3 linked regions of the Homo sapiens genome follow. The protein of the gene in region 3 purifies or fractionates together with the protein of the main gene of each other region. This does not show direct contact. Each region holds a gene or a part of one and is shown on either strand. Other genes may lie near its edges. The genes, in order: VPS39, PPP4R1 and GDF3.

The links.
Region 1: the proteins of GDF3 (region 3) and VPS39 purify together in Homo sapiens (affinity purification with mass spectrometry; one large-scale study listed by BioGRID and IntAct). This does not show direct contact.
Region 2: the proteins of GDF3 (region 3) and PPP4R1 purify together in Homo sapiens (affinity purification with mass spectrometry; one large-scale study listed by BioGRID and IntAct). This does not show direct contact.

The regions. Positions count from the first base shown.
Region 1 is NC_000015.10:42,205,408-42,209,835, forward strand, and holds the start of VPS39 (vam6/Vps39-like protein), read right to left. Parts: upstream 2,898-4,428; 5' UTR 2,747-2,897; coding exon 2,674-2,746; intron 1-2,673. UniProt on the Homo sapiens protein: Regulator of TGF-beta/activin signaling, inhibiting SMAD3- and activating SMAD2-dependent transcription.
Region 2 is NC_000018.10:9,586,950-9,590,595, forward strand, and holds part of PPP4R1 (serine/threonine-protein phosphatase 4 regulatory subunit 1), read right to left. Parts: intron 1,905-3,646; coding exon 1,762-1,904; intron 1,287-1,761; coding exon 1,140-1,286; intron 1-1,139. UniProt on the Homo sapiens protein: Regulatory subunit of serine/threonine-protein phosphatase 4. May play a role in regulation of cell division in renal glomeruli. The PPP4C-PPP4R1 PP4 complex may play a role in dephosphorylation and regulation of HDAC3.
Region 3 is NC_000012.12:7,692,942-7,697,334, forward strand, and holds the start of GDF3 (growth/differentiation factor 3 preproprotein), read right to left. Parts: upstream 2,835-4,393; 5' UTR 2,788-2,834; coding exon 2,520-2,787; intron 1-2,519.

The sequences.
Region 1 (4,428 bases), on a different chromosome or scaffold from region 3:
ATGAGGAATGAACCATATATACAAAGGCAAGTGAGTGCCAGGCCAAGGAAACAGCAAATGTAAAGGCCCTGAGGTGGGTATGTGCTTTGTGCATTGATGGAACAAAGAAGGCTGTGTGGGACTGGTACCAGAAAGGAGTGAGAGGTAAGTACACAGAAGACAGGGAAGAAATCAGGGCCTGATCATGTCAGATGTTGCCAGACAGGGTGAAAACTTTGGAACTTATTCTAGTTGTGATGTGATACCATGAGAGGGTTTTGAGTAGAGGATGGAATCAGATTTAGGTTTTCAAAGTTTCACTCTACCTGGTAGACAAAAAACTGAAAATGGCACACTGGCAAATATAGGGTGATCAATGAGAAGACTACTACAGTAATTCAGGTGACAGATGATGGTGCCTTCAAGAGTAGTAATCATCAAGATAGAGAGAAATGACTGGATTTCAGATTTATTCTAGGGGTAGAACACACAAGATTTGCTGATAGATGGGATACAGTGTAAAACAGAATGAAAGAAGTCAAGAACGATTCCAAAGCTTTTGGCTTTAGTCAAAGAGGTAAATAGAAATGCCACTTGCTGAGACGTAAGATACAGGAGGACAGGCATGTTTGAGGGGAGAGGAATCAAGAACGGTTTTGGCTATGCTACTGGACATCCAAATGAAGATGCTGAAAAGGCAGCAGGATTATACAACTTTGGAGTTTAGAAAGAAATCATCCTCATCATGTTCTCTCCTGATTTCTATTTCCCAGGAGACAGAGTATGTTGTCTCTAAGACATTTACACCTCAAATACTATTTGGCCCTGTGTGACCTGCCTCTGGAAGTTCCTGGACGAACTTTCCATCCAAAGGCACAATGTAGTTAAAAAGGGGTAATGACTAGAAAGAGCAATAATTACTGCTGCTCAAATCTGGAAATAAAGCACTTTTGAAGCAGGAGGCAGTTAATGGCCTCTTGTAACCTAATATGTACCTAAGCACCTTAGGAACCAAAGAGCATTTCTCCTGTTCGGTGGGTGATCAAGGAAGGCCAAAAGCTACCTATTGTTTCAAAACTGTGTTCCTGAAAACCACAGGTGCAAGGAATCTTTACTGTGACAAAGTGGAGTTGGTGAGAGTCTAGGAGCACTATGTGCTAATGGTCCAACAGGAGATCAGAGTCAAGGATTCTGACGAGCTAAGTCAAGTGTAGCCACAGCTGCATTAATCCCTTTCAGAAACATATGTCCTTAGCTGAGTTGGGTACCCCCTCATCCATGTTGCAATAATAGGCAGCATATGTCTCTAGTATTATAATCTGTTCACGTGTATTTGTCCCCCAGTGTGTGTCCTAGGAGCACAGGCACTGTTTCTTATTCATCATTGTATTACTGTCCCAAGCAAAGAGAATGGCCCGTGTAGCCACCTAATAAGTATATCTGATGAAGCAATGGGGGAATTAATCCTTTCATGCAGTGTCAGGTCTTTCATTTAAAAACTTTTTCTCCTCCTCTATTTAAATGTTTAATGAGAGCATTTAATGACAGAAATTGGTTTTCTTGAGATGTCTGGAGGAAGTAGGATTCTCCTCTTAACCCAAAGGACTAGAACTGCTTACTGTGGAGGTATGATTTTAAAGAGACCCAGAGCTGCTAAAGGAGGAAGGGTGCACATTAACATGAAAATTCTTCGTGAAAGAACCCTACAGAAGAAGTCATCAAGAACTCTGCAAGGATGACTCGGTGACACTGTGAACAGCTGACGCACATGGTATCAGACACCACCAAGATTCCATAAGGCCCATCATGGTTACCTATCTAGCTCAGTATAAGATCTGATTAAGGGATCTGAATCATCTTTTTATGGTCCTTGATTTCTAGGACCTAAACATTAAGAGGAAAGTTAGAAATGATTTCCTTGGTCTTTGGCGGCTGGTATCAAACCAGTCACTCACGGATAAGAGCACAATGTTCACCGTTATCCCTGAAACCTTCATTTGTATTTCAGAGCACACAAGAGATGTCTGTCCCGGCCTTCTGCACTAGTCAATCCCAAAAGGACTATGCTAGTTTTTATGGGTTAGGTTTCAAGACAGTCTGGAAACTCTTCCGCCTACAGTTAGGTAACTTGGACACTTTGGATATAAGGTAATCAACCGCTTGGCTAGATTCAAAGGTTAGCTAACTACATGAGTTCCCTACAGGAATGAGAAATGAACGAATGATCACTAAGGGGAAAAAAAAGCATATGGTGTTAACTTGTTCAATGCCCCCAAAACCAGGGTTGACTTTCATCTAGAAAACAACACAAACATCTGGACAACTTCAAGCCCCTGGCAGGCTGAGAACTTCTTACTGCTTTGACCCTCTAAAATGAAGTCTTCGTGGGAATCAAAATGGGCCAAAGCTGAGCACAACTAAAAAGGAAAGCTCATCCTCCCACTCTGCACAGAGAGCAAAAGCAAGGGGAACTCCCCTAAATGACTGGATCACTGGGATCACCCAAGTAGCCCCACAGACATCGATGTCTATAGCCGGTGGTCATCTCTCTGCCTTCTCTCATCCTAAGCCCCTCTCGTGTAGCATCCAACCGAAGCCCACACGGATGGACGCCTGTCCACTTCCCCGGCCTCAGAAAAGATCCGGACCGCTCCTGTGCTGACTCCGCCTCGGCCCCGCGGCCCCTCGGCTCACCCCAGGCAGCCAGACAGTCGATTTGCAGAGGCAGCTTTTCTAGGATCGGCACTGGCTCGAAAGCGTCGTGCATGGCGGCAAGGGGAGAGTTGCCACCGCCGTCTCGCCCAGAGTGTTCCGGGCCGGGCTGGGGTCCGGAACGAGTCTGGGCTAAGGGTAGACCGGGATCCGGCCAGGAACCCCCCGGCTACAGGCCCTTCAACAACACAGCCATCGTCAACCCCGGACTTCCTGCTAGTTAGGCCCGCCTCTTCCGCAGCCGAAGTCCCGCCCCTTCCTCCCGGTGCACTCTAAATGAATTGTTTTGTTGCTGAGTTGCCATCGTCACTCTGGACCCATAGCTACTCCATCCCGAGTAGCCATGGGCTTACCATAGAAGGAACAAACTCTTAATCTTAGAACTGCTTTAGGCAGTGGGCGTGATGGTTAAAAACTCGGCCTTTGGCGTCGACCTCAGACGGAGATCTACCAATTAGGAAATTAGCTGTGATTTAGAAAATTTAATATTTCGATGCCATACTTTCCTAATCTGCAAAATTTTTGTAAATACCTGTGACCTAGTGTCGTGAGCGCTTAGCAACACCTGACACCCACTAAGCTCTCAGTAAGTGGTAGCTTTAGTATTACCATTATATCCCAATTAGTACAAGCACCTTACCTTAATGCTTTCATGGTTGTTCTAGGCCAGTGGTTCTGAAAGTGGTTCTAGACCAGCAACAACAGCAGTAGCAGCAGCACCTGTGAACTTGTTAGAAATGCAAAGTTTCAGGCCCATTCCAGTTCTACTGAATCTGAAACTCGAAGGGAACAGCAACCTATGTTTTAATAAACCCCAAGGTGAGTCCATGCACTTAAAAGCTTGAGAACCACCATTTTAGGTTAGGGTTGTTCAGCGATAGCACTACCGGCATTTAGGACAGGATAATTTCTTGTTGGGGGAGGGGGCATGTTCTGTACAATGTAAGATGTTTAACAGCATCCCTAACTTCCACCCACCAAATGCCAGTTATCTTCCCCACAGAGGTATAAAAATGTCTCTTTTCCGTATGTCCTCTGGGAGGCAAAATTACCCTGAGAACCACCATTTGAGGCCAATGCTTTTCAAATTTAACGTGCATACAAATCACCTAGAGACATTGTTAAAATGCCTCTTTTGATTCAGTAGGACCAGAGTAAGACCCTCAGTTGAGCACCAAAAATCTCCCAGATGTTGCTGGTCCCTGGATCACATTTTGAGTAGCAAGAGTTTAGGCAAGAGATGATTCACTAACTCTTGGAAGTCAGTGAAATAAGCCTCCTTTTAATTTGATGACCACATTCCTACCAATTCAACTTTCCAAAGCTGTGTCTTACATCCTAATATTCCTTTAGGAAGGTGTCATGGCTTTTCCTCCTATAGGACCTGGGACCTGTACTGTCTGCGGTTACCTTAGTATTCCCCTTGAAGACTTAAAAAACAACAAAGTTTGGGCTGCAAGAATGATCTATATCTGGTCATTTCCCCCTAGGAAAACATCGTAGGTCAAAAAATTAAGCATTTGGGTTTAAAGCAAAAATGTAAAAGAAAAAGGGTAAGTCTGTGATATGAAGTCAAAAAAACTGGTCCTGGTCATTTTATTTTTACACAATATCAGTTTCTTCATATGTAAATTAGGAATACTTGTCCCATCTTTACCAAATGCTGTTCTGATAATCAAGTGAAAAGTACTTTCAAGTAGTCAAAAACATGAAAATTGCTACACAAATCCTGTGTTA
Region 2 (3,646 bases), on a different chromosome or scaffold from region 3:
CATTTGACTTTATGATGTGCGTAATGACTTAACAATCTGTATATTCTTCTGATAACCATCACTGATGTCATATATCCTGGGAAATGTACTTGCCTGACCATCCTTCCCACAAAGACCATACCTGTCAGAGCAGGAGCAAAGTATTATTTTATTTCCACTGTGCTTACACAGTGCCTAGAAAAGTGTTCAATACCTACTGAAGGGGTTCAAGTGTTTCTTCGTTCAGTCCAGGGTTTTTAAAATTTTAACTGCACTGATAAAATAACCATTTCAGTTTTCCACTTTGACATAATAATTTACAATTATGTATTTTTTCGTATTGTGTGCAGAAGGTACACTTTCCTTTGTAAGCCTTTATGTCCCTTTCTAGCCCTGATTGTATTTCAAATTTAATGATTTGTGGCAACTTTAACAGAAAGCAGCCTTTTCTTTCTTTCTTTCTTTCTTTTTTTTTTTTTGTTTTGTTTTTTTAAGACAGAGTCTTGTTCTGTCAACCTGGCTGGAATGCAGTGGAATGACCTCGGCTCACTGTAACCTCTGTCTCCCAGGTTCAAATGATTCTCGTGCCTCAGCCTCCAGAGTAGCTGGGATTACAAGCATGTGCCACCACACCTGGCTAATTTTTTTTGTATTTTTAGTAGAGATGGGGTTTTGCCATGTTGGCCAGGCTGATCTCAAACCCCTGGTCTCAAGTGATCCTCCCACCTTGGCCTCCCAAAGTGCTGGGATTACAGGCATGAGCCACTGCACCCAGCCCAGCCTAATTTTTTTTTTTTTCCTTGAGGCGGAGTCTTGCTCTGTCGCCCAGGCTGAAGTGCAGTGGCCTGATCTTGGCTCACTACAACCTCCACCTCCTCCCAGGTTCAAGTGATTCTCCTGCCTCAGCCTCCCAAGTAACAGGGACTACAGGCGCACACCACCATGCCTGGCTAATTTTTGTATTTTTTTGGCAGAGCCAGGTGTCACCATATTGCCCAGGCTGGTCTCCAACTCCTGACCTCAAGTGATCCACCCACCTCGGCCTCCCAAAGTGCTGGAATTACAGGCATGAGCCACCGTGCCTAACCCCGGCCTGACTTTTAATAAGCACCTCTTATCAGCCACATTTTGCATAAGTGGAAAAATGGCATTTGACTTACAGCCACAGCTTCTGTTTTCACATCATCATTGCTATCTGGGGCTGTCAGCTCTATGAGGACAGGGCACACTTTGGTCTCCACATCAAATCGTTCAATGAGCTCCTGCTCCAACAGAGCCAGCAAAGCTGCCTGACTTGTTTTCCTCACCTAGGAGAAAAATAACAACACAAAGAAAGTACATATGCAACATGACAAAATTCTATCACTTGATTTTTATAAACAAAGATTTCTCATCTCAAAGGGACCCATAACTGGCAAAACTCCGCAAATAAATATTTGTGTTTATTTTCTTCAACTATTACAAAGACTACAGAACTTCGTAGATTGTGCTGTAACAGAGGAAGTGGACAGAGCCATCCTGGTAAAAGATGCCTCACAAAGTAACAAACCTTTTAAGGGACCGCTAGGAGGTTACCAAGTGAGAGTGCAGTTACTAGGCATTGTCCATAATGGCATTAAAGGGATCTACTAGATTTGTCAGACTCTAAACACATCTTGTCTAAGATAAATATTCATTTTTGAAAAACAGTAAAACATTCCAAAGAGAACACTTAGGCTCGGCTATTCTCCATATATTACACTACGTAAATTTCTTTTAAGAACATATAAATGGTACTCTTACCTGATTATTCTGATCTGCAAGGTATCTAACCACAATAGGTAGTAAGAATTTTGAAAAAGCATATGGTATTGAAGGCCGGTTTTCTTGACAAAACAGTGCGATGTGAGGCACCTGTTCCATCAGCTCCGCTCTCACAGTTGGTTCTATTGAAATAACGGCAATGTGAGCAAACATGTTCTCCTGCAGCAACAAAACCTTTATCTGTTCTTGAGGGTACTTAGGAAGGCTATGGACTTTCATCTTCAAAATATAAAGGACTTGAGACAACATCCTTTAATTCTGCATTCCTTTTCAGAATCATACACAGATCAATCCCATGAGTGAAAGGAGGACCTTATCTTCAATCCAAGCTTCTGTTGTTCACAGTATGCACTGAGTATCTAACCATTTCTTAACAATAAATAAATTTATTCATCACCTACACTGTGCCACACTGTGCTAGGGGTTAAATATCCTATCTGATATTTACATCAATACTCTGACACATACATAGTATTATCCATAAATTCCACTATTTAAGAACCTACTAGGACAAGTCATAAAAACTAGTTCCTAATCTCAACTTAGTCAATAAATGAAAGATATATAATTAGACTTAACTAAGACTAAAAATGGGTAAATGAAAATTAAAGATGACAAATATTTTTTAAACACCTGAAAAGACCCAAGTGCATATGGCAAATTTAAATGTGAGAAATATGGCATTTCAAATTTCTGGGCTTCAAAAAGATGAAATGTCTAAGAAGCAACAGTAGGAAAATCAGCTAGTTAGCACGGAACAAAAGTTCCTACTGCACATCATAAAGATCAAAAGTACTAAAAGATAATATTAAATGTTCAATCTTGAGGTGGGAAGACAAAATCCAAAAATCAACCGTAAGACCAACTAATTATACATTATAAAAACTTTATTATAGGCTGGGTGTGCCTGTAATCCCAGCACTTTGAGAGGCCAAGGCGGGCAGATCACTTGAGGTCAGGAGTTCCAGACCAGCCTGGCCAACATGGTGAACCCTGTCTCTACTAAAAATACAAAAATGAGCCAGGTGTGGTGGTGCATGCCTGTAATCCCAGCTACTCCAGAGGCTGAGACAGTAGAATCACTTGAACACGGGAGGTGGAGGTTGCAGTGAGCCAAGATCGCGCCACTGCACTCCACCCTGGGCAACAGAGCAAGACTCTGTCTCAAAAACAAACAAACAAAAAAACTTTATTATAGATAACAGATACCAATACTCAGTTAAAAGGGAAAACAGCCTGGGAGCAAATTCATGTATAACAGAGTATTAGGAAGTGAACACACTGTTCAAATAAATAATAAGAAAGAAAATAAGGATACAAGTAGGCAATTCATAGAAGACATGCAAGTGACTGAAATACAGACAGACATGATGGATTATCAGTAACAAGTCATTGTATCGGACCTAACTAGAACTCTGATACCCATTATTATTATGCATTAATAAAGCTACATTAAAGTAAATATGTATGAATGTGTCTACTAGGATTTCAGATATCAACAGAGAAATTAACATACCTTTAAGTAGATAATACTGTATTTTACAAAGCTCAGAATCTTATCAACAAACCAATATCTGGAATTTCTATTATACTGTTGTACCATGTGAAGTTGGCCAGATATGAACAAAATAGAGTGTTTCTGTTTTGAAGAAAAACCTAATTTTTAAAAAAGTAAACATACAGGCCTCTGCTTTTCTCATGGATGCTGAATTTTCTAAGTTAACACTGACAATTGCTTATATTTTTGAAGCAAAAGGAGGACACAAGTTATGGTTTCAGTTAAAAATGAAATCAGCAACTTTTCTTTCTTCAAAGCCCCGCTTAGGCAAATAGACTAATGGGGCGGGGCAGGGGAATAAAGCCC
Region 3 (4,393 bases):
TCATATTGAAGTACAATGTGATTCTTCGATTTTTGTCCATGGATGCCCCTCTTCTGAAGTTACAAATGTGCTCTCCCTGTTTTCTAAGCTAACTTTCCTGCCTGAATTTTCAAATTTTACCTATTCCTCTAGGAAAAGGCCCAATACAGTCTACTTTTACTATTTGCATCTTCAATTTCTCCCTTTTCACAAATAACTCATTTGGCCTCTAATGCCATCATTTTGTTTGGTAGAATGACTTCACGCTTGAGTAGGTATTTTCTCTCTTTTTCTTTCCCCGAGATGGAGTCTTGCTCTGTCACCCAGGCTGGAGTGCAGTGGTGCGATCTTGGCTCACAGCAACCTCTGCCTCCCGGGTGTTCAATCGATTTTCCTGCCTCAGCCTCCAGAGTAGCTGGAATTACAGGCGCCCGCCACCACACCTGGCTAATTTTTTTTTTTTTTTTTTTTGGTATTTTTAGTAGAGACGGGGGTCAGGGGAGTGGGGGGAGGGCCTTACCATGTTGGCTAGGCTGGTCTCGAACTCCTGGCCTCGTGATCTGCCTGCCTCGGCCTCCCAAAGTGCTGGGATTACAGGTGTGAGCCACCACGCCCAGCCTTAAGTAGGTATTTTCTGAGGTCATTCAGCTTAGGGAGAAATTACAACTCAAACCGAAACACTCTTAAGCACCCCACCACCACACCTCTTCATTCTCAAGCATCATTCAAAACCTAACAAAATTTGGCTGGGCATGGTGGCTCATGCCTATAATCCCAGCACTTTGGGAGGTCAAGGCAGGCCATTGCCTGAGCTCAGAAGTTAGAGACCAGCCTCATGGTGAGACCTCATCTCTATAAAAAAGTACAAAAATCAGCCTGGCGTGGTTGCGTGCACCTGTAGCCTGTAGTTCCAACTACTCTACTCGGCAGGCTGAGGTGGGAAGATCGCTTGAGCCCAGGAGGTGGAGGCTGCAGTGAGCCGAGATTGTGCCACTGCAGTCCAGCCTGGGTGACACAGCAAGACCTGTCTCAAGGGGAAAAAACAAAAAGAGGAAGAACAAGAGGAAGAAGAAGAAAAGCCTGAAGTACTTGACCAGGCAAATTCTGAGGGAGTACTTCAGGCAGCCTGGATACAGCACGTGTGAGGATGAGACAAGAGTGCATGCTCTAGAAGGAATAGACTACTATGAGCTTGGAGTTGAGTGTGCAAGGAGAGGGTGTAAAAGGTGAGACTGGGGAAGTAAGCAGCAGGGTCAGAACAGGCAGGGCATGGTGGGTCAACTCTTGCAGAATTTTGCAGACGAGAATTTTACGTGGAGGAGCAGTACGACTCAATACGCATTTTTAAAAGGTAATTCTGGGCTGGGTGCGGTGGCTCAGGCCTGTAATCCCAGCAGTTTGGGAGGCTGAGGCAGGCGGATCACCTGAAGTCAGGAGTTCAAGACCAGCCTGGCCAACATATAGTGAAACCCTGTCTCTACTAAAAAATTAAAAAATTAAAAAATTAGCTGGGCTTGGTGACACACGCCTGTAATCCCAGCTACTTGGGAAGCTGAGGCAGAAGAATCACTTGAACCCAGGAAGCGGAGGTTGCAGTGAGCTGAGAAAGTGCCACTCTACTCCAGCCTGGGGGACAGAGCGAGACTCTCAAAAAAAAAAAAAAAAAAAAAAGGCAAACTTTATCTTGTATTCTCAAGGCCATACACAGTTCCTGGCTCACCATAGGTATCCAATAAGTGCTTCTTGGACAAATAAATATTCAAATCTTCTCTCCAGTTGCTGTAAAACTAACCAAGGCTCTAAATTCTGCATCTGAAACACCCGGGAGGTTGTATAGACATGCAGATTCTCAACACCCATTTCAGACTTTGAATAAGAATTGGGTGGGGAGAACTAGGGGCAGGAATGGGGTTGGAGGATCTACTGTTAATGGAAGACCTAAGTTATTTGGTGGGTGGTCAGTTTGGGAAAGTACTGGATCCCACTCACTGAGATCCTTTTAAAAGGATATGACAGTTGTATATATTATTGCTCTCTATTCACAAATCTAGAATAACCTTTGCCACCCAACAAGAGTAGCCAGGAGGTACAAATAAGGGAAGCAGGACTCCTGGGCAAACCAACCTCAAAATTTTCATACCCTGCTTGCCACATGGAAGACGGCAGGATGTGTATATATGGGCTGCAGGGTGGGAGACTGAGCTCTGATTCCTCCCTCACCTCTTTCATCTCAACTGAAGCACAAAGCAGTTGATTCAGAAAACAAAAACCTATTTCAAATCCTGACTTTGTTCTCACACACTAGCTGTATGATCTTGAATAGATTACAGGTTACCTACTGTCTGAGCCTAATTTCCTTACTGTTAGGAACTTGATAAGAATATCTAACTTCCTCTCAGGATCGTGGCTGGAATTAAATGAGACAAAATATGAAAAATACCAGCACAAGGCCATCAGTAATTGTCATTTCCTATTGTCCTTTCCTTTCTTCACACCACCCAGTTCCAGATGTTTTTCTGGATAACACTCTATTTCCTTACCTTGGTCTGGGAGAAAGCGAAGTACATTCCCGCGGACGCCCAGCTCCTTTACGTAGCATAAGTCTCGGGAGACCCCAGTGGTCGCTGCTGCCTCGCGATCCTGGAAAATTTTCTTCAAGATATAAGGCACAGGTTGGAACTTCTGGGGTGAAGGCGCCTTATCTAAGCCCAGAAATTGGAGAAAGACATATTCTTGAAATTGGACTGCCTGGCCCAAAGCCAGAATTAACAGGAAGCTGAAAGCCAAATCTGGCAAGAAACGAAGCATGGCCTCTGGAGTGGCTGTCAGACCGGGGAGAGCTCCACTGCCAGACTGCCCAACAATTCAGAGGCTGCTAATTTATCTGATGTAAGATAATCAAGTGTGAATTGCTCTCTTCCCAGCTCCTCAAAGGCCATTGGATGTGAAGAGGGAATTTTTTTTTCTCTTCTCTTGCTCTACTCTTCCAGGAAAAAGTTCACAGAACAAAGATTACCAATGCATGGACATAAATTCTACAACAATGTGAGGTTGTCAGCAGTAGACAGAGTGAAAAGGAGACATGCATTTATTCATTTAACAAACAGTTACTAAGCATCTATTATGTGCACGGTGCTGAGATAGGTGCTAGGAATAGAGCAGTGAATAATTCATAGACTTGTAATTAATCATCTACATAGACCAAGCTTGTCCAACCTGCGGCCGGAGGGTCACATGAGGCTCACGATGGCTTTGAATGCAGCCCCACACAGATTCATAAACTTCCGTAAAACATTATGAAACTTTCTTGTGATTTTTTTAAGCTCATCAGCTATCATTAGTGTTAGTATATTTTACGTGTGGCCCAAAACAATTCTTCTTCTTCCAATGTGACCCAGGGAAGCCAAAAGATTGGACACCCCTGGATTAGACAAATACTCAAGTAGATTTCATTATTTTATTTTTATTTTTATTTTTATTTATGTATTTATTTATTTTTGAGACAGGGTCTCGCTCTGTTGCCCAGGCTGGAGTGCAGTGGCCTGATCTTGGCTCACTGCAAGCCTCGACCCCCTGAGCTCAAGAGATCATCCCACCTCAGCCTCTGGAGTAGTTGAGACTACAGGCATAGGGCACCACTTCCAGCTAATTGTTTTATTTTTTACAGAGATGGGGCCTTGCCATGTTGTCCAGACTGGTCTTGAACTCCTGGTCTCAAGCAGTCTTCCCACCTCGGCCTCCCAAAGTGCTGGGATTGTAGGCATGAGCCACTACACCCAGCCGCCAGCCTTGTTTCTCACCACCCACCATCCTTAGTGTGGATGCTCTAATTACATTGACCTATTTGTAGCTCTGTGAGCTCATTTCATCTCAGAGCCTTTACACAGACCAAGTTCAAAGGTCACCTCTACTTCCACAGTTTCGACTCACCAAAATAGATTGAGATACTTCTTTCTCCCACTGAGCCATACTTGGGCATCCATTACAGTTTTTTTGTTTTTTTGTTTTTTTTGAGACGGAGTTTCGCTCTTGTTGCCCTGGCTGCAGTGCAATGGCACGATCTCAGCTCACCACAACCTCTGCCTCCCAGGTTCAAGCAATTCTCCTGCCTCAGCCTCCCTAGTAGCTGGGATTACAGGCATGCGCTACCATGCCCGGCTACTTTTGTATTTTTAGTAGAGACGGGGTTTCTCCATGTCGGTCAGGCTGGTCTCAAACTCCTGACCTCAGGTAATCCACCCACCTCGGCCTCCCAAAGTGTTGGGATTATAGGTGTGAGCCACTGCACCCGGCCCTCCATTACAGTTTCTGCAGTGCATTTTACTGTGTTTGCCTCCTTCCTTTTCAGACAACTCACACCTTGAGGATCAGAACTGTGTCTCTTTGCCTAAGTATCTTCAGTGTGTCTTTTTCC